Linked DNA regions of Homo sapiens: all the other regions are reported to be linked to region 1. The links are microRNA targets in miRTarBase. Many come from high-throughput screens and were not tested one by one. Region 1 holds a microRNA gene; each other region holds the end of a gene's coding sequence.
What was found. Region 1 holds the annotated microRNA hsa-miR-590-3p (UAAUUUUAUGUAUAAGCUAGU, at 4,954-4,974, opposite strand). A microRNA usually pairs through its seed, bases 2 to 8, with sites in the 3' UTR of a target mRNA and lowers its output. Matches are read on the target gene's strand: a 7mer-m8 pairs with bases 2 to 8, a 7mer-A1 pairs with bases 2 to 7 and ends in A, and an 8mer does both.

Region 1 (7,201 bases):
CGCCGCAGTCAGCCCAGTGCAGCACCAGCACCACCCCCTCCACCCCCAAAGCGCCTTGGCCCAGCAGAAAAGAAACCCGCTGGCCATTCACTGCACCCAGCCAGAGAGGCCAGCCTCCACCACGCACGGCGAAAGGAGTGAACTAGCTGGGACACACACACGTGTGAATGCATGCAAGCATTCACTGCATCTTCTCCGTGGACTCCCTACCGCTCTTCCATAGCCCCCCCTTTCAGCCTCACTGTTTCTCGTGTGAGCCTATCTGCTTGGACAGTCCACTCGGGAGGGGGTCATGGAGCCAGGACTCCCTCTAAATAGGAATGGAAAGGACCCTGCAGATATTTTTATCCTAGTTGTGAAAACAAGGTGCCTCTGATTCTCTATATCCATCACAGCTGAATACCAACAAGGTCTCTGCTGTTCCCTCTGTCAGTGACTCTGGTTTTTGTTGGAAGCCCCAGCAATACAGAACTCAACATGCAGGTCAGAAGAGAAGCACTGAGGGAATGAAAGGAAACGCCTGGAGTTGGGCCAGTGTCTAAAGTAAAGAGAAAGCAAAGGAAAAATGACGCAGCACCGCAGCCCAAACGCCCCCCCACGGCGGCCACCTCTGCTCCTCCGAGGAACCCCATGTGCTGCTGGGAAAACAAGGAGCAGGAGAAAAAGGACAGAAGGAAAATGGGGAAGCAGCGGAAGAAAGAAAAAAACGCACAAACAGGCACTAGATAGATACAGCAAAGCCCAGAATGTACTAAAAACCACTTGTTAACAGCTGACATGCACTCACAAGCTGTGTTTCCGCTGTGAGGAGGCCAATGGCAGGCGCAGGAGTGGCGGCTGCAGGACGGCTGCCCGGGGACTCACCAGGCTGTGGTCCTGCTCTAACCCCCCACGCCCCATTCCCTCCCAACCGCAGGCTCATTCTTGCTCCTTTTGAACGACTTCCTCTCTAGGCCTGGCACCCCCGAAGATAGCAGAGTTGGGATTGGCTACTTGATTGAGGGGCGTCGCGACTGTTCGAGGTTTAAGCTGGAGTCGTGGTCTCTGTGCTCTTTCCTCTGGGGGAGAAAAAGCAGAGTTTGTCAGAGTGTGGATCCCATTCCATATCCAGCAAAACGACCATGCTGATGTTGCTGTCAGCAAACCAGCCCACTTTCTAAAATTCACCTGGCCTGCTACCCCAACAGCAGATGCTCTAATGACCAAGGTGAACTTGCTATTCCAGAGAACGTGGGGATCTATGCCGACAACTCTGTGTGCCGTAGAACGCCAAGTCCCCACGGGGTGTGAACCGGCCATGATCATCCCATCAGGACAAGATGCCCTCCACTGACACATGAGCCCGTACCTTCTGTGGGTTCTCTGAAATCCATGTTGGATCCACGGAGGGGAGGGCCATCTCTGAAGCGGCTGCCCATGGGGGGGCCTGTTCGCCGGTCGCCTGGGCGACTACCTCCCCTGCCCCCTAAGAAGTCATCCCTGAAGCCTGAGGAAGAAACAGGACACTGAATTACTTTTCAAACTATCGTCTCCAAGCTGCTTATAGAATAATGTTCTGGGAATTGTTTGAGTTTCATTTTAAATTCTTTAGTTTGTCCACTATCTGAAGTCTCTCCAAAATAAAGTGTGTTAAAAGTGGGTCCAAATGCCAATGTGTGGAGTAATGACAGCGCTAACAGACTTCCCAAAGAAAAAGGAATCAAGATCTTAGGAGAGCAAACAAACGAGCTGTTTACATGCTCAGCTTGCATGAAAAGTAGAAAAATATTAATACCACGAAACTGTATTTTAATACGGCTTAAGCAAAACAAGAAAGCCTCAAAGCAGGTTGAACTCTATTTTCTAATAGAAATCTATACAGCTATTTTAAAAGATAAACCTGAAATTTAGAAGTATTTACAACTCAGAACACAAAAATCACAAGAAAACGCTATATGAAGACAAAATAAAAACACAAAGTCCCAATTTTCCTGTTTTGGCTGCGTTTTAGGTGTGGGCCATTCTACAAGCAAAGCACCTGTGTGGTAAACAAAGCAGTTATCCGAAATTGGCCATGCCCTACACAGAGGGGCATGAGCAGAGAGCACAGCGCCTCACCCCCACCGGCGCCTCCTGTGGGGGCAAAGCGTTCTTTCCCCATTCATTTGTGTGCCTGCTAAGTGGGCTCTTGGCAGAAGTAAACTGCATCTCATTTAGAAATGCTGAATTCCCACTGGTGTGTAGGAGGAAAGAGTATTTTCTCAATGGTCTTAAGGGGCCTTCAGGCTTGTACTTCAGTGAAAGCTAAACTTTAACTGTATAACCTACTGATGTTAAAATTTGGTAAAAAGACTGGTTCACGCCTGTAATCCCAGCACTTTGGGAGGCTGAGGTGGGAGGTGAGTATAGGAGTTCAGGACCAGACTGGGCAACACAGTGAGACTCACTCTCTACAAAAAACACAAAAATTAGCTGGGCATGGTGGCGCACGCCTGGGGTTCCAGCTACTCATGAGGCTGAGGCAGGATAATCGCTCGAACCTGGAAGGTAGAGGGTGCAGTGAGCCAAGATCGTGCCATTACACTTCAGCCTGGGTGATGAAGTGAGACTCTGTCTCAAGGAAAAAAAAAAAAAACTGGCGAAAAGAAGTTAAACCATAATTAAACAAATGAGCTTGCTGCTGTTGGTTGCGCACTCAGGGGGTGCCACTGCTACTCTCTGCGAGAGTGGTGCCAAGGCTCCAAGCTTTCAGGGAGCTTGTCTTTGAGAAGAACCCCCAGAGCCCGCAGTATGCACTATACAGTCATCCTCATTATCCACAGATCCCATATTTGCAAATCCACCCAGTCGCTAAAATTCATGTGTAATCCCAAGCTAGATACCAGCAGCATTTCTCCAGTCAGTCCTGGACCTGCACAGATGCGACGATCCCAGCTGAGGCAGAAAACGATAATGCTCTGCCTGTTTCAGTTATTAGCTGTCAAGTCTTTTCACGATGAGTGTCGGGTGTTTTGCCCTTTGGGCTTTTTCTGGTGACATCGCTGTCTGAAGTGGCCCCAGGTGCAGTGTGAAGTGCTGTCTGCTGTTCTTAAGTGCAGGCTGGCTGTCAGGTGTCTTACAGACAAAACCGGTGTGGGATGAGCTTTCTAACAGGCTGAAATGATGGCACCACAGACTACTTACTACAGCTGGCCCTGAGTTCAATGTTAACACTATTAAATGAATCAACACTAACATTAAATGAGGCGTCTTTAAAATCAAGGTCACATAGGCTGGGTGTGGTGGCTCACGCCTGTAATCCCAGCACTCTGGGAGGCAGAGGTGGGCAGATCACCTGAGGCTGGGAGTTCGAGACCAGCCTGACCAACACGGAGAGACCCCGTCTCTACTAAAAATATAAAAATTAGCTGGGTGTGGTGGTGTGCGCCTGTAATCCCAGCTACTTGGGAGGCTGAGGCAGGAGAATCGCTTGAACCCTGGAGGCGGAGATTGCAGTGAACCGAAATCATGCCACTGCACTCCAGCCTGGGCAACAGAGTGAGCCTCTGTCTCAAAAAAAAAAAAAAGAAAAAAAAAAAAGTCACATAAAGCAATGTTAGGTATGATCAGCTGACGAAAATGTTGTGATCTGTAGCACACAGGAGCAGCACCGCACGGGCTCATTCAGTGTTCTAGCAACTCCACAGAACCACCTCCAATGATAAGCGCTGACTGCATCACCTGTGGTGGGGGCCGATTTCTATTCTTTAAAGGTGGCAAGGGTTTTGGAAACCAAGGGATCTCACACCCAGTTCAGAGACTGAGTTAAATAATAAATTTTAACAAACCAAGTAATGAAAGCAAGTCTGAACAGATTTAGACCAATAAGAGCACTGCTTTAGGGGAAATACACTGGGAGGCATACAGTCGAGTATAAGGTCCTTTACAAAGTATTTTACCCACATTACACAGTTCAGTGAACAAGCCTAGTTAGTATTAAAACATTTAACTTCACGTTTCCCCCAAACTAAACTGTGAAGTGTACCTTTCCACGTGAGTACAAAGTAAATTTACACCCTTTACTATGAGATTAAATGATTTCGACCACCAATGTCTAGCGTGAAACAAATAGCTCACACCACGCTGGTGAAGCAGATGAACAAGGATCTCTCATCAAATCTGTTGGTGGGGGCCGGGCGCGGTGGCTCATGCCTGTAATCCCAGCACTTTGGGAGGCCGAGGCAGGTGGATCACGAGGTCAGGAGATCGAGACCATCCTGGCTAACATGATGAAACCCCGTCTCTGCTAAAAATACAAAAAATTAGCCGGGCGTGGTGGTGGGTGCCTGTAGTCCCAGCTACTTGGGAGGCTGAGGCAGGAGAATGGCATGAACCCAGGAGGCAGAGCTTGCAGTGAGCCGAGATCGCACCACTGCACTCCAGCCTGGGCAACAGAGCAAGACTCCGTCTCAAAAAAAACAACAACAAAAAATCTGTTGGTGGGTTTCTAGGAAGCAAACTATTCATGAGAATCTTCAGAGTTTTCTTTACAAAGCTTAGTTTAACACTGGCTATTTCTGATGATGAAATGTTTTTGCTTTCTTGGTACTTTTCTGTTGCTCTATTTTGTTTTTTACATGAGCAGGTATCATTAAAAAAAATAGCACCATCCTATTAAAAAGTAAAAAAGATCTACTCTCGCAAATAACGTATAAAGTATCAAATTAGCCATTACTCCATCGAGTGAGCCCACATAGGGTTTGAGATGTCACCAAAACACTGCAGTTCCCACCAGAACTGGTGGCGGCCAGGCCATGGCCGTGTTCACTGTGTCTCTGCTTGAGCGCCAGTGGCCAAGCTAAGCCAAGGGTAGAAAGACGTTAGTATGTGGGCAACTTCTATAACACCTGCGAATACCAAACTGGCAGGGGAAAGGCCGTTCCCTGAGCTGCTGGTTGGCTCTAAGAAGACAGCTGCTGCATGTTTCAATCAGAGACTAGCTTATACATAAAATTACAGATTGACTTCACCATACTGCACTTTTATGAATAAGCTCATTTCTGACTGGCTACAGGACTTTTAAGAACTATATTATTCAACAGGTAGTCGTCACCTGTTCAGCCAAAGCTGAGTTTTTAAAAATCTCAGACTCACAAGACAGCGTGCACCAGTCCCTCCCATACTCACCCACTACTTTACACCGGTTTTGTTTTGATGGGGGGAGGGTGCTGACGTTCTATACAGCACAGCATTGACAGCACATCCCAAGTTTGCGGGAAAGAAAACAAATTTGTTTTTCTCTTCCTACCTTTCTGGGTTACAACTGAAGTTTTTATCATGTGCATATATAAAAAATTATACTTTTGTAATTTAAAAACAGAAAGTAAAGATGATAAAAATGCTTAAAATCACCCTGCAGGGCAGAGGCCTGGCGTGTGGACTGATGCTTTGTGCTATACCACCAGCTGCTCTGCCTGGGTTGGCTAAGAAAGAGAACGGCGAAGTGCATCAGGTCCACCATCAAGGGACTGGACCTCCCCACAATCCTCCAAGAAAAAAAAGGGCCATCAGGACTACCTTTCACCATGTAAGAACCCAAACCTCTATCCTATGTTTTCCAGAAGGAACAGTACTTCTCTTGGTGCCATACACAAAACCACAGAGGAGTTTCCCTGGGCTAGAGTCTGAGAAAGACTGCTGAGCGAGCTCAAGGACCCAGGCCCGTACACATCCAAGGAGCTGCAGGCTAACAAAGGTGACCACACAAGGTGCATGGGGCTCAAGTCCTGCCCCCACAGGCTCTAACAGAGGCTTACTTGCATGCCTGGGCACCCTGCAGGAGAGTTGTATTTGTTAAAGGAACTAAATAAGTAGTCCGGCCAGGCGGGCTACTCGTAAGAAACAGAGAACAGCAGCAAGGCTCCTAGGAAAAATTAAGTGGTGATACTTTAAATACTGATACCAGAATTGAAGTCATCCCGGGAATCCCATCCACCTCTAGATTCTCGAGAGCTACCCATTCCTGAGGATACACAAAAAAGATAAAGTTGAGGTCGTGTCATTACCTTGCTGCGCAAACATGGAAAAATTCATTTGGAAGACATACAACTCAAGTGATGGAAGGTTCAATGAAATCATTTTAAGAGCTTTTGCTTCCAACAGAAAACAAAAAACGCCAGGCTTGCAGAAGCATCAGCCATTCTTTCTAGGATTTTACGCAAACTTTTAAGAGCTCACGAGAACCTATCACACCTATGAGATAATCGAGTTCTACTAGGAACGTTCACGAGTTGGAATTGGTAGGCATACTGCAAATCTTTATGATGTTCAGCTTTAGAAGAACCAATCACCTCTGTCATCTGGTCCACCTTTTCTGAATCCAAAGCCACCTTTATCTTGTTTTCTGCCTTCTGCAATGTCCACACGAAGTGACCGATCGCCCAACAGCTAATGATAAAGGGAAAATAGTGTAAGTATTGGCAAAGAAAACAATCTCAACTGCTATGACAGAGAAAACCCGAGGATACTTACTGCACCATCGTATGTCAAGGCTTCCTTAAGGGAATCCACTTCATCGAATTCTACATAGCAGAATCCTGGAAAAGAAAAGAAGACCCCGATTTCCTCAAGTAATTCTGGGTTAAAGATGTGGGAAGATCCTATTCATACTACTTCTCCACGTCACAACTACCATTCTGTTGTCTAGATGATGGCAGACTAGGAGAGCCTTTCAATAGATAGAACCCTGACTGGCATTCCTCCCTCTCAATTCTATTTTATCAGTCAGAAAATGCTAACTGAACATGCACTGAAATAGCAGCTGCGTTTCTAGAAAGCTTTCTTCTTGAATGTTTTAACCATAATATTCAAACCTTTCTCAGGCCATCTGCAGAGCTCTTCTGACTTCTGAATGACTATTTAATCTAAGTGAGGATTAGATTTCGTAGATTTCAAACTTGGTACCTAAAATGCTCTGAAGAAAGAGGCTTAAAGTGCCGATTTAACTTACTACTCAGGTAACTGACATAAAATTTGCTTCACAAAGCTGAAAATATATCCTTGGCAATCAGGGCATTCTTCTCTGAATGTTAATTAAAAGACAGGCAGCCTGGGTCCAAGTACCTGTTACTGACAACCTGTGTCCCTGATGCCAGGGGTCTGACATTGCCCCTTCCTTGCTGTCTGGAGTCTAAATCTAGTTCATTACTCCCCAGATGCTGGCACTACACCCTGCATCCCCTCT
Region 2 (7,201 bases), not on the chromosome of region 1:
TGTGGTACATCCAGATGATGGAATATTATTCAGTGCTAAGAAGAAATGAGCTGTCAAGCTATGAACAGACGTGGAGTAAGCTTGAGTACATGTTATTAAGTGAATAATAAGCTAGTCTGAAAAGACTACCTACTGTATGATTCTGGAAAAGGCAAAACTATGGAGACAGTGAAAGGATCAGTGGTTGCCAGTGGTTTGGGGTGAGTGGGATGCATAGGCAGAGCACAGAGGACTTTTAGGGCAGTAAAACTATTCTGTGTGATACTATAATGGTGATTACATGTCATTAGAAATCTGTCCAAACCCATAGAAGGTACAACATCAAGAGTGAGCCCCAATGTAAATTACGAACTCTGGGTGATAGTGTTGTGACAATGTAGGTTCATCAACCGTAACAAACATGCCACCACGGTGCAGGATGTCAATAGTGAGGGAGGTGGTGTGTTTGAGCAGAGGGTATGTGGGACCTCTCTGAGCTTTCCATTCAATTTTGTGATGAATCTAAAAGTGCTCTAAGAAATAGTCTATTTTAAAAATAATAATGAAGTTCCCTAGACCCCACACCAGATGCAGTAAATCAGACAGAATCGTAAAGAGCAGTCATGAACCAAGGAATATGATTTTTAACAAATTTCTTTGGAGGCCAGATCATTGGCCATATGAGGAAGGAAAAGGTGAGAGAACGTGATGAAGGGATGACAGAAACTAACACTGGTATTTCTGTGTCCCAACTTCAGAGATTCAGGTTCAGTAGCTTTAAGGCGGGGCCTAGAAATCCACATTTAAGAAACTCCTTTGGTGCTTCTGATAAGAGGGCAAGACATTCCTACCTCCAAATGGGAGCTTTCTGGAAGTAGGATTAAGAAAAAGGGGCTTGAGGTTGAAAAAGAGGTGAAAATGGCAGACAATATTTCTTTTCTGATGTGAAAATAAAATACTGTTTTGTCAAAAAAATAAAAAAAAGATAGCCAAAGGCAATGAAGAGAGGATCTGAGCAAAGGACAAAAGAACCAGAGGCAATTCCTCCTCCTGAGGAATAATTATTTCTGCAAGAAGACAGTCTTGCTGCGTGTCTCACAAAGTCATGTAGGTGCACATTCCTCACCATGATTTCGTGGAGAAGAGGCAGATGACATGTTATCTTTGGGGATTTAGCCTCAACAACAGATTAAGTAGTAAAGCTCTAACACACCAATTAGCAGAGCTGTAGCTTCTAAATGCCACAATACAAAGCACTTATCAAGAACAGGCAAAAACAACTGGCAGGTCTTTAGGGGAAAAACTGGTTCATCCAATGGGTAAGAAAAAAATGAAAAATTTTTTAGATGACATTTAAAATGTAGCAAGTCAGTAACTGTGCTCATGGAATAGCACCTATAATTGGGGTAACTGTATGAGTTATTATCCAAAACAGGACACTTTTGAGTTAAAGAGGCTTTTAATAATTATGCCAGCAAAACAGGTATAGAATAGGACTCCCCAAGTAAACCAGAATGAATGGCTCTCAAACTGTGGTACTTCCCTGGATATTAATAGACCGAATAATCATGATATATAATAACTAAAATGTTCCACAGAGGAATTGGCCTTAATTACAAAGTTAGAAACCACAGATGGTGTTAATACAAGTTCTTTTCTCTCTCCACCCATATCCTTGGTGTGAAACATCAAATAGCCCTTTTATAATTACAAAGCACAGCAGTAATTAATATTGATCTCAGAACTCAGTAAAGGTCAACACTAATTTATAGAAAATTTTGGATTCAATCTAGTTTTTACTCTGGAATTGATGCAGTGGGCAGTGTTTCACCAGCCCCAACACCATCACCATGATGACGACAGGCACAAACTTGGAAAAATTGTCTGAAAAAGTTTTTTTTTCTAAAGATATAGCACACTTCTGTATGGATCTTGAATCCCTAGTGAAATGGTGCCTTCATTATGAAAAGAAACATCTTTTCATTGGGTTTCTAAGCTGAAGGAGTTTGGTTTTTCTTTTCCACTTTAACAAATATTAATTAGGGTCTACAGTATGCTACACTCTGCCCTAAGTGACAGATAAAGCAGTGGACAAACAGACCAAATGATTGTCAACTCAATTAAAAATACTGTTTAGTCATCTGTCATCTTTGAGACTAATGGTTCACAAACCTGACTGCACATCAGAATTACTAGGGGAGCTTTTTAAAAAATATTATGCCTCGTCACATAAAAACCTATACACAAATATTCATGGTAGAATTACTCATAATAGCTAGAAATAGAAACAATCCAAATGTGCATCAACTAATGAATGGATAAATTAAAATGTAAGGTATACATAAAATGGAATACTTTTTACCAGTTAAAGAGAATGAAGTTCTGACACACAGATGAATCTTGCATCTAAGTGAAAGAAACCAGACACAAAAGACCACATATTCTATGGTTCCATTCATATGAAATGTCCAAAATAGGCAAATCTATAGAGACAGAATGAAGATTAGGGGTTGTCTAGGGCTGACGATCTTGGGGAGGAATGCAGACTGGCAGTTAATAGGTACAGCATTTCTTTTTAGGGTGATTAAGAATGTTCCAAAATTGATTGTAGTGACAGTTGTACAAGCTTGTGAATACACAAAAACCCACTGAATTATTCACTCTAAATAAATTGTGCAGTATGTAAACTATGTCAATAAAGCTGATAAAAGAATACTAAGCTTGGATCTCAGTCCAAAAGTCTATGATTCAAATGGGAATCATTTGATTTTCATATTCAGCACTGAGAAACATTGAGATAAATTAAGTAACTCAAATGCTGAGGTTTTTATATTTTTTTTCCTTTAAATGTTTTTTTGAGACAGAGTCTTGCTCTCTTGCCCAGGGTGGAGTGCAGTGGTGTGATCTTGGCTCACTGCAACCTCCACCTCCTGGGTTCAAGCAATTCTTCTGTCTCAGCCTCCCGAGTAGCTGGGACTACAGGCGCATGCCACCACACCTGGCTAATTTTTTGTATTTTAGTAGAGACGGGGTTTCACCGAGTTGCCCAGGCTGGTCTTGAACTCCTGAGCTCAGGCAATCTGCCCACCTCGGCCTCCCAAAGTGCTAGGATTACAGGTGTGAGCAACCACGCCCAGCCTTTAAATTTATTTTTACCTTACAAAATTTAATTTTAAAAATTCATTTTTCCTTTTTTCTCTTTTTAAATTATATAGTCCCATGGATTTTCAAATATTTTATACTAGTTATATAATAACACTATTTTAAAAACTATATAGAATAAACAGCACTGAGGAGAGATGAAGCAATAGAAAGGTCAAAGTTCAAACTTGTTAAAATATGTTTGGCTTTGTTTCCCTAAGGTTGGAATTATTAAACTGGTGTGACTTTAGAAGGTTTTCGAGGAATTGGTGTGTGTTACTGCAGAATCACTAGCTCTTAATTTGTAATTTGATGGCTAAAAACGGACAAGTCACTTAAAGGAATATATCGTATTAAAAAGTTACTTTCCTTGACATTTGGCCACCAGTCAGCCCTGTCTCCCCTAGCCTCTGTCTGAAGTATGGAAGACATTTAGCCTGCAGGCTCATGCCTATGCAGTACCAGAGGGAATGTGGAGGGCGCTTGCCATGCACCAGCAGCCCTATTCTCACCTGTGTGATTATATCTAACTTTAGAATTGCAGCCCCAAGATGGTTATCTGAAATACAAACCCACTTGTTTGCAACTTTCTGCCTACCTCCCCATGGCATTTGTGCAGTCTTTATGACTGGGATTTGGCCTCAACGTTTCCTCCAATATCTCAGTAACCCAGCTGGGGATGAGTCTCACTTGGAAATGCAGTTCAGCTGTGCTGATCTCTTCCCCAGCTTGGAGGAGGCCTGCCTTCCCTCAAGCTGGCCGCCTGGCTGGCTTCCTGATCATGCTGGACAATCTACCCTGTAAAGTTCCACGTTGTCAGCTGCCAGACACTGTGTGCTGCCACTGCCAGGACACAATGCTCCTGGAACCCCTACCTGCTTCAGTGTTGATGCTGGCCTGGACCAAGCAAGAGGGAGAGGTGGCTCCAGATGTCCACCTGGACATTACCAGTGATTGCTGGTCCCTGCAGCTCCCTCTGGCATGGGCATGAAATTCCTGGAGTTATCTCCTTTTCTCCCTGTGAGGTGAGGTTACAGCACTATCTTTGAAATCTTGTTAGAAAAAATATAAGACATTTACAGTTATATAGAGTATTGGAACAATTTTGTTCTTTTTAAAATTTAAAGCGTACATTCCAACTAACTATTTTGACAGTTTTGAGAATCTGACTATACGTTCATATTTCTGGAGGGGTGGTAGAATCAATCAAATTACATCACACTCTAACTCCAATAAGGTTGAGAGTCAGATAGCTAAAGAGTGACTGACTCAAAAGTGAAGCCACAACTTGGGGACACTGTATTGACTCCTGTGTCTGGCTGGGGTCATTGCTGGGATCACTGAAGATAATAATCCAGAAGAAGGAATTAAAAATATGTCCATCAAATGTGGGGAAGACATTTAACTGAGCAGAAATAATAAAAGAGAGGAAAATAGGATGGAGAGCTTTTGTGCAAGATCATATATTTAGAAACAAAAAGAACACATGGATCTGGGAAGCCAGATTGTAAGTGCTGTAAAAAACCCAGGGACACAGTTGAGCACGTGTTACCCTAAATTTGCAGGAAGGGAGCACTGTTATGAATCAACTAAGCTATAAGGCTCATTACTGGGAAGATGATACACCTGATATGTTAATGAACAGAAAGGTCCCAAATGAACAAGTTCACTTCTGTGTATTGCGCTGGTCAAAGCAGTAACCTTAATTTCATAATTACACCTTAAAAAATGACAATTTCCAAACACTTGGAAACACCAAAATTCAATGGGACATACCATCATCTATAGCAAGTATTCATTAAATATTTATTACTTGAATGAATGACAAATAATTTCATCCAACAATCTTTAAACTGCTTAATCCTATGACAATATTTAACCTTTTAAATTTCATGACCTTATTCCTTCTGTGCTCTAGTTTTTAAAAGCTTGATAATTCTATTTCTTTTCTTTTTTCTTTTTTTTTTTTTGAGATGGAGTCTTGCTCTGTTGCCCAAGCTGGAGTGCAGTGACGTGATCTCGGCTCATTGCAACCTCCGCCTCCCAGGTTCAAGAGATTCTCCTGCCTCAGCCTCCGGAGTAGCTGGGACTACAGGTGTGCGCCACCATGCCCAGCTAATTTTTTCGTATTTTTAGTAGAGATGTACTTTATATTTTTAGTAAAGATGGGGTTTTGCCATGTTGGCCAGGCTGGTCTTGAACTCCTGACCTCAGGTGATCTGCCTACCTTGGCCTCCCAAAGTGCTGGGATTACAGGCATGAGCCACCATGCCTGGCCAATTCTTTCTACTTATAAAAAATTCTTATGTTCTTGGTGGATAAACTGGTTGCATAATAAAATTATTTTAGTTCAATGGATAGATTCCTGCCAGATTCACCCAGTTGCCAATTATCTGAACTGAAACAAATAAAAATATCAAGTAAATTTTTATATCACCCTCCAAAAGCTTGGGAATTATATTCTGCCACTTAAGGCTTTACTGGACTTACTGTCCATAAAATTTTCTAATTACAAAGTGGAAGTCTATTCAAGAGTGTTTATACGTAGAAAAGTTAGGAAGACAGAAACTTGAAAAAGACTGTCTTCAGAAAAACCTCTCTGTTTCCAATAGGAATATACCATGGTCATAATTTTATGCTCACATGTCACACAAAGATAGGCTGTTACTGGAGAGTTATTTTGTACAGTTGGTATTTTTAATTCTCCATTTTTTGTTCACAAATGTAGTCTTCATTTTAATGAAGAAGAGAAGTCTGTGTTTCTTCCATGTTGAACTCCTCTGTCCACTTCTGCAGGTCTTGTGCATTATGCATCGTCCATAACTTTGCAAAATACTTGAGTCTCTTTCTGGGGAAAAATCAAATACTACTTATTTAATAAATGAAATTGCTGGGAGACAATACGTCTCATCAGAAGCTATGAAAAGTCTATAACACTTGAATACCGGGCAGGCTCTATAGTTAGGAAGCTGTGTCAGTGTCACCCTTCCAGTGAAAGGAGCTTTCAGAGCTGCTACTATAATCAAGGGACCCAGGTTACCAATTGCCACTATTACCTTTGTGCCTTCTCCTAAAATCCTTACCCCTGCCAGCCCCAGAGGGGAGAACCTGACCTCCTCCTCCTTCAAACTCTGCTAGAGGCTGGTGGTGTGTGCTTATTTGTACCTGGAGAAAAGAAACTCCTATGAAGTGTTCCCAGGATGAAAAGTAACACCAACCGAAAACAATGAAGCTAATTAAAGAGTAAAACGCCAGCATAACACAGACTTACTTTTTTTTTTTTTCTGCAGAATAGCAACCCAATTGACTATTTAGGGTATGGAGCTAGAGTACCTGAGTTCCAATTACTGCTCCACCATCAAGTAGCTGTGTGACTCTGGGTCAGTGTCCTGTCCTTGCTGGTCTCACTTTCCCCAACTATACCATGAGGATAAGGCTGCCATAAGGATGAAATGAGATAATGTATGTAAAGTGATGAGAAGAGTAGCTGGCACAGTGTGTAGGCTGCTGCAAATGACTGCTCAGAATGGTTTCTACACACAGTAACCATCCAACAAATAGCAACTATTATAACAAATCCACAGTAAGGCCCAAGATGCAGTTTGATTTCTTTGATCTGGCCAAAGGAATTGATGTGATAAGCACTTTTAGAAAAAAGGTAAAATAACAAATACAGTATCTTGATAAATGATCAGATTCCATCCCAATGCAATGTCTTCTAATAATTCTCTCATCTTGTCAAGATAACTTCATAGAGTTCAAAATGTCACTTACTAGTTGGAAGAGTTAAAATATTTATGAGTAATCTGAGAGTTTTTTTGCTCTTGCTTTATAGGCTATATAGCAGAAACAAGAATATATGAAAATATAGAAATTGCCATATTTTATTGCTATCTTGCATATATTTCTACAGCAAATTTAGAAATTGACATATTTTATTACTATCTTGTATATATATCCTTTGTAGTAAAGTTTTATTCTAGGTTTTTTTCAGAGAAAAAGAACAATAATAATATGGCAACTAAAGAGTTTAATTTGTCTCTGGACTTTGCAGAGGAAGAGGGCTAAGTTTATTTTTAAA
Region 3 (7,201 bases), not on the chromosome of region 1:
TCGCTTATGAACCGTTACGTAACCAACAAATTTGACTCCCAGGCTTTTCACACCATAGGGGTAGAGTTCTTAAATCGAGATCTGGAGGTAGATGGACGCTTTGTAACCCTCCAGATCTGGGACACTGCAGGGCAGGAACGTTTCAAGAGCCTTAGGACACCCTTCTACAGGGGAGCAGACTGCTGCCTCTTGACCTTCAGCGTGGATGATCGGCAGAGCTTCGAGAATCTTGGTAACTGGCAGAAAGAATTTATTTACTATGCGGATGTGAAGGACCCTGAGCATTTCCCCTTTGTAGTTCTGGGTAACAAGGTAGACAAAGAGGATAGGCAAGTGACTACTGAGGAGGCACAAACCTGGTGCATGGAGAATGGGGATTACCCTTATTTAGAAACTAGTGCCAAAGATGATACTAATGTGACAGTGGCCTTTGAAGAAGCTGTCAGGCAGGTGCTGGCTGTAGAGGAACAGCTGGAGCATTGCATGTTGGGTCACACCATTGACTTGAACAGTGGCTCCAAAGCAGGGTCTTCGTGCTGTTAAAGATAGGGAGCCTTTTAAAAATGTGCCCCAAATTGATCAGTCAGTAGTGTAAGAATAACTGTGCCCCTCTAAGAGTGCACACACACGCACACAAGAGGGTAAGAGACAAGGTTCTGATTGTGAAACAGAGCCTTTCAAATTGAAGTGTAGATTGATTTAAAAAAATTAAAAATTAAAAAAAATGAAGCTCTATCAAGCCAAGTGTATTTTGCGTGATTTCTGCTATTTCCCCTTCTTGTGTGTCTCAGGACATATCAGAAAATTTTAGTCCTGAGACAGTTAAATATTTTTTAAATCACAGTTTAAACCTAGAACCCAGCTGCATGAAGGAGTTAAAGAGCTACAACTATTTCTTAAAGTGTTCCATTAATCAACTAACAAATGTCACTATCAGACTCTTGCCAAGCAGTTTCTGACATTTCTGCCAAAGGGGAAAAAAATCAGACTTTGAGCTGTATTACAATAAAAATAATAATGCAAATAAGGATTCCTAGGCTTGAATTAAAGAAGTTGTAATGATTAGGAGTGCAAAAGTATAATGATATACACTGACTTGTTTAAATCCTTATGTATGGTTCGCTCCCATCTGAGCTTTTCAAAAAATCCCATCTCAATAAGAGATACTCTAATGACACTGGCAATTGATTATACTTCTTGTGTTTGAAGTCATAGGATACTAGTGAATGGATTATGCTTAAATATGCCAACCACCTTTGCAAATAAATGGTTGGTCTGCTTTTAATTCCTAAGTCTACTTTTGCTGCATAGAGATGTTGCTTCTCTGACAACCTCTTACCAATTTAGCAATGCTGCTTAGTATATGAATTTGGATGCAGTGCTCTCTGCTCATCATTTAGATGGTCCTTTGATCCAACATGCTGGGCTCATGGAGAAGGCTTCATAAAAGATTGGGGGATAATGAACTTTTCTCACAAGGCTCCTTAACTCAAATATTTATTGCAGAAGAAGGAACTGGTTTCTTATATGTTGCACTGTATGTTCAACTAGCCTAATTAGGACATTGAAAGTGACAGAAGAGCAGATCTTAACCCAGTGTTAGAATGAATTTCCCATAAACAGAGTTGTCCAACAGTGGAATGGACTGCCTTAATAGTGAGCTCCCTGCCTCTGAAAATATTCACTGGATGACCATCTGTTAGAATACCATAAAAAGATTTTCTGTGCTGGCTACATGTTCAATATAAAGTCCTTTCTGGCTCTAAGTTCTATGAATATATAAACTACATCAGTGCCATGCTGTGGTTAGATTTATCTGATGATAACAGCTAAGACTATGGAGAGGGACTTTAAAAATTCTCAAACCATTCTGTGATCAATCTTTAACAGCAACTACATAGCTCTTCCTTTTGCTTTTGCACTGTGGCAGGAAAAATTCTTGAGCTCTGAGTAATCTTTATGTGACTGATAAAAAACATCTTAAAGCTCCCATGTTAAAATATAAAAATGGTTTGACAATTTTTGATTACCATGACTGTCAGTTATATACTATATTATGAATATGCAGTGTGGTTCTTGTTGGTTGATCTGTTTACCCTGCATAGATTTTAATCTGTACTTTAAAACATCTATGATAAAAATAGTGACAGACAGAAATTACCCCAAAAAGAGACCTAGGCCAGGAAGGGGGTGGGAGCTTTCATAGGAATACAGCCTAGAACTCTCCATTGTAGCCACGTATGGAATCAGCCTTACTTACATGTAGGACCTTTGTGCTTTAAGAGCTCTGGGACATATTGGCCAAATAGAAAAGAAGAGGACAGTATTTCAACTCAGTCATACTCAATATTTCCAATTAAGATATAATCCTGACACCATTGTTCAATTAACTTTGACGCCAGAAGTCAAAGCCAGAACTGGGACCCCACAGCTCTTAAGTACTGGTCCCTATCCTGCCTATGCCTATAGCCAGCCACACTGGTTTCCAAGTTCTGTGATCATTTTGCTACAATCATGTTAGGGTGAAAATCTGTACGTCAGAACTGTTAAATGCTAATTATTTTTAAGTGCATGAGACCTGGGGCCTTCTCTTTCTACTTGCACTCTGCTTATACTAGTTTCTATTTGTAGATCTCAGGCCTTCATCATAAAGACCTCTATCAACTCACAAAAGTATTTGTCTCTATTAGAGTGGCATGTGGTCATTTGAGTAAAAAAAAAAAAATTACATGGGTATCGGATTCATAGGCATCCTGTCCATCTAAGACAAGTGTTAATTTTATTGGCCCATCAGCTGGAGCCCCTTTCCTCTTAGCCATACCATTGTTTTCTACCAAATTACCACTCAATATCTTAATGAAAGCACTCAACATTAAGTGACATAAACAGTGGCATTTGGGTAAGCAACACTCAGTGGGGTGCTGACATACAGTTTGGGTAAGATTAAAAAACACCAAAGGCTGAAATCTGTGAGTACCAAGAACTGTGCATATAGGTTTAGAAATTGACTGTGTACCCTAGAATGTGCAGTGTAATATTTTCAATAGGTGTTTTTTTAAAGAACACTAGATTTTTGGAATAATATATTTCTAATTAGGACTATACTGTTTTTCAATGGTCTGTTAAAACATCATACAGAATATTTATTTAGTTTATTGTCATGTATTGGCTAACTTTCAGGGGCCTCAGATTCCATATGTCTTCAGTGGATTGATGAATATCAGGTTAATTTGTGCCTGCCCCAGCCATCTCTACTTTATTCTGAGGTATTCCACAATCCTCTTGTTGCAGGTGCTGCTAAAAAAAACTCAAAATTGTGTATCAAATATTTTCTTTCAACTGTAAAAAATCATCTGTGTTAAAGTGAATAAAAAGTGCATTTTGAATAACCAGCACACAATGTTTGTGTTTATTCCCTCCCTTTCTCTTTTTGAGAAATTGGTGGGTGTGATGGACAGTACTTATTAATCAAGTCACTCTTTCAGGCTGCACTGGATGTGGCCTCTGGATCATGTTTCATGTGGTACTCCAAGCAGCCACTATCTAGTGATCAGATATTTCTATACTGATTGTGAAGCAAACTCTAAAGATTGGGGCAGGGAGGTCCTTTTTATTTTATACCACTTTCTTTCTATTTATTTAGTTATTAGAGACAGGGTCCCTCCATTGCTCAGGCTGGAGTGCAGTGGCGCAATCATGGCTCATAGCAGCCTCAAACTCATGGGTTTAACCACTTTCTAATGCATGACGTGTATTGGGACTGGAAATTGAATCTTAACTTTCCACTTTATTTCTTTATTATAATTTAAAACCATTACTTAATGGATACAATGTACACTATTCTGGTGATGGGTACACTAAAAGCCCAGATTTCAATCTGCAATATACCCATATAACAAAACTGCACTTGTGCCCCCTAAATTTATACAAATAAAAGAAAAAATATTATAATAAACAACGTTGCATAAAAAATAAGATAAATGTTAAACCATCAAAAAATATAAACAGAGTAGACATATTCCCTTTATTTTCCTGACTGGTGAATTGTCCAGACCTTAGGAAAACATGAAAATATAGGTGAAACAAATAAGAAAAGCAAAGAATAATTTTGTTAAATATTCTGTTCTCTTGCCTCTCACATATTGGATTTTAAAGATACATTAGCACCCAATGGCTTGAATATACATAATGGCGGTTTTAAAATTATGGACACAAATCTTTCCACAGCATATATAGTTTCATTACATTGATTCCATCTGCCACAGATTTCACTCTCTTCTCTCTGTCTACTTTTGCCTGTTGCAACTTTGGGCAGTTGAAATTGGGGGTGGGGAATTTGTTGGGAAACAGATTTTTTTTTTTTTTTTTTGCCACATGTACCATTTCCATCTCTGAGGATTATAATTTAACACATTATCAGACCATGCTTCAAATGCAGCACCCCAAATCATTTTGACTAGTCTATAATGATGCAACTTTTAGAATATAGAAAGTCATAGATTTATAAGCCACTTAATAAGGATTTGCTCATTTGTAACTGATTATTTTTTTTTTTGAGACAGGGTCTCGCTCTTTTGCCCAGGCTAGAGTGTAGTGGCCTGATCTTGGCTCACTGCAACCTCCACCTCCTGAACTTAAGCAGTCCTTCCACCTCAGCCTCCTGAGTAGCTGGGATTACAGGCATGCACCAGCATGCCCAGCTAACTTTGTGTGTGTGTGTGTGTGTGTGTGTGTGTGTATGTGTGTGTGTGTGTGTGTGTGTGTGTGTGTTTGAGACAGGGTCTTGCTCTGTTGCCCAGGCTGGAGTGCAGTGGCCTGATCTTGGCTAACTGCAACCTCGGCCTCCCGGACTCAAGCGATTCTCATGCCTCAGCCTCCCTAATAGCTGGGATTACAGGCGCCCGCCACCACACCTGGCTAATTTTTGTATTTGTTGTAGAGACAGGGCTTCACCATGTTGGCCAGGCTGGTCTTGAACTCCTGGCCTCAAGTGATCCACCCACCTGGCCTCCCAAAGTTCTGGGATTACAGGTGTGAGCCAATGCACCGGGGCCCATAACTGATATTTTAAAAACAGAATGCCAACTTCCTGTCTTTAATGTTTTTCTGCCTCATTCATAACCCAGTGGGAAATCTCCTCATGATGTCTTAAGAAACAGTACGGTCTCATTTTTTGGAAATGGTTTGGCGATAGTCCTTCCAGAAACAGGAAGGTGTGGAATACATAATTTGTCTTCCATCTTGTAACTGTAGTTTTAAAACACACTGGAAAATCGAGGTATCAATTTGAGTAATTTCAAGCTGGGAGGTGGGATGGACATCTCTACTTTCATTTGAATTACCCAAAGTAGATCTTGCAGCAATTTTTTTTCCTCAGTGATCTAGATAATCATTTCACTTTTTTTCTCTCTTTGCTGTGGAAATGTAAAATTTACTACAGTGCAGTGTTTTTCTTACACTTGATTTTAGGGCAGATAAACTGTAATATACTGTCTTAGCCCATTTGGGCTGCCCTAACAAAATACCATAAGCTTGGTAGGCTATAAACTACAGAATTTCATTTCTCAGCTCTGGAGGCTAGGAAGTCCAAAATCAAGGCATCCGCACATTCAGGGTCTGGTGAGGTCTTGATTTCTGGTTCACAGATGGCACCTTCCAGCTCTGTGGAAGGGGGAAGGGGTTTCTCCTGGGCCTCTTTTATAAGGACACTAATCCCATTTATGAGGGCTTCACCCTTGTGACCTAATCACCTTCCAAAGGCCCCATCTCCTTATAATGCCATAACCTTGGGGGGTTAGGATTTCAACCTATGAATTTTGGAGGGGGACAAAAAGATTCAGAGCATAGCATACACCTTTTGATAAAACGTTAATGTGCATGATTTGGGATATTCACTAATGTTTTCTTTTTCCAAACTGGTCATTTTAATTTCCTCAAGTTTCCATCACCAAAAGAGCTCTCATTCTTTACTACTTTCTCTTTAAGAGAAGGAAGGGATAATGACAAAAGCTAGGCATGTTTATGGAATAAAGGAAAAATTATTAAATGCCTTCTTACTGATATGCTTGCCAAAACTGGTGAGCAAGGATCTCTTATTCTGCTAGTGATGGTAGTGGTAATAATGTGTGAAAGGGTTTTTTTTTAAGGGGGCAAGAAGTTACTTAATATTTTCCCAGTGAAAATAAGCATCTTCACAGCTCAAGATGTGGCGTCGTCACCTGTAGTCATATAGAAACTGCTGCAGTGATCTTTGTGTCTTCATAAATCTCTTTGCCTTCTCCAAGGAAACACAGAGAATGATGATTCAGTTATATATAAATGTCTTTTTAAACAGTGGGTTTTGTGTGTGCAAGCATGTGTATTTTTAAGTAATCTGTCAGTTCCTTTCGTGCTGTATGAACTATGGGTAAATGTATAATGGTCTCACTATAACACTCCTGAATTTTAATCAGACCTGCCAAGCTGTGCCACATCTAGTTAACTGATTGATAAAAAGAATTGGGAAATGCTGCCTTAATGAAAGAAATAGCTCTTAATTCAACATTAGCTATATTGATTAGAGTAAAAATACAAATCACACTTTCCTGTGGTGCATTCATGAGGAAGCAAGAAACAGGCTCATATCATCTCTTTTCTCTTACGTTGTTCCTGGCTGCCTTAGAAACGACATATCCAAGGGTGTGTCCTGTAATATATTGCTCAACATAGAGTCTGTTAATAGATGAACAAGTGCCAGTAGCCTCTGAGTTCTCTCTTTTTCCATTTGTTCCCTGCTAGAAAACTTAGAGTGACCGATAAATGCTTTAAAATGTTCTTTTTTTCTGATTACAAAAGCCATACACATCCACCGTAGAAAAATGAAGTAATGAAAGAAATAGAAAAGCAAGATTTAAAAAATTAAAGTCATCTGTAATGTAATCCTATTAACCTGAGATAAGCAGATTTTAACATTTTAGTGTAGATTTTAATATATTTATGTATTTTTAAAATTGATTTGATACTGCACACACTGTAATCTTTTTTACTTAATATATATCTATAGTACTTAACTTTTCTCTAAGACATATATTCTTCTAAGATTATATTTGCTGTTTGCATAATATTGTATTGAAGGGTTTACCACAATTACCCATATTGCTAAACTTTTAATAAAACACTTATTGCTAGACATTTAGGTTGTTTTACAGCTGCCTTCTTTTCA

Region 2: the mRNA of MSH3 is a reported target of hsa-miR-590-3p. Seed matches in the 3' UTR shown: 8mer at 5,749-5,756 and 7mer-A1 at 5,237-5,243.
Region 3: miRTarBase lists RAB9B as a target of hsa-miR-590-3p. Seed matches in the 3' UTR shown: 7mer-A1 at 705-711, 7mer-A1 at 712-718 and 7mer-A1 at 2,722-2,728.

Annotation. Positions count from the first base shown.
Region 1 is chr7:74,189,026-74,196,226 of GRCh38, reverse strand. It overlaps MIR590 (microRNA 590), which reads right to left and starts at 5,029; the gene lies at 4,933-5,029. EIF4H (eukaryotic translation initiation factor 4H) reads right to left here. Exons shown (of 7, transcript NM_022170.2): 3 at 6,490-6,554; 4 at 6,309-6,405; 5 at 5,921-5,980; 6 at 1,349-1,486; 7 at 1-1,058. The coding sequence ends at 919. RefSeq lists an enhancer at 1-88.
Region 2 is chr5:80,874,518-80,881,718 of GRCh38, reverse strand. MSH3 (mutS homolog 3) reads right to left here. Exons shown (of 24, transcript NM_002439.5): 24 at 4,904-5,968. The coding sequence ends at 5,857. Among named protein-coding and RNA genes, the nearest start is that of RASGRF2, 82 kb to the left of the region's middle.
Region 3 is chrX:103,818,521-103,825,721 of GRCh38, reverse strand. RAB9B (RAB9B, member RAS oncogene family) reads left to right here. Exons shown (of 3, transcript NM_016370.4): 3 at 1-3,395. The coding sequence ends at 543. Among named protein-coding and RNA genes, the nearest start is that of RAB9B, 10 kb to the left of the region's middle.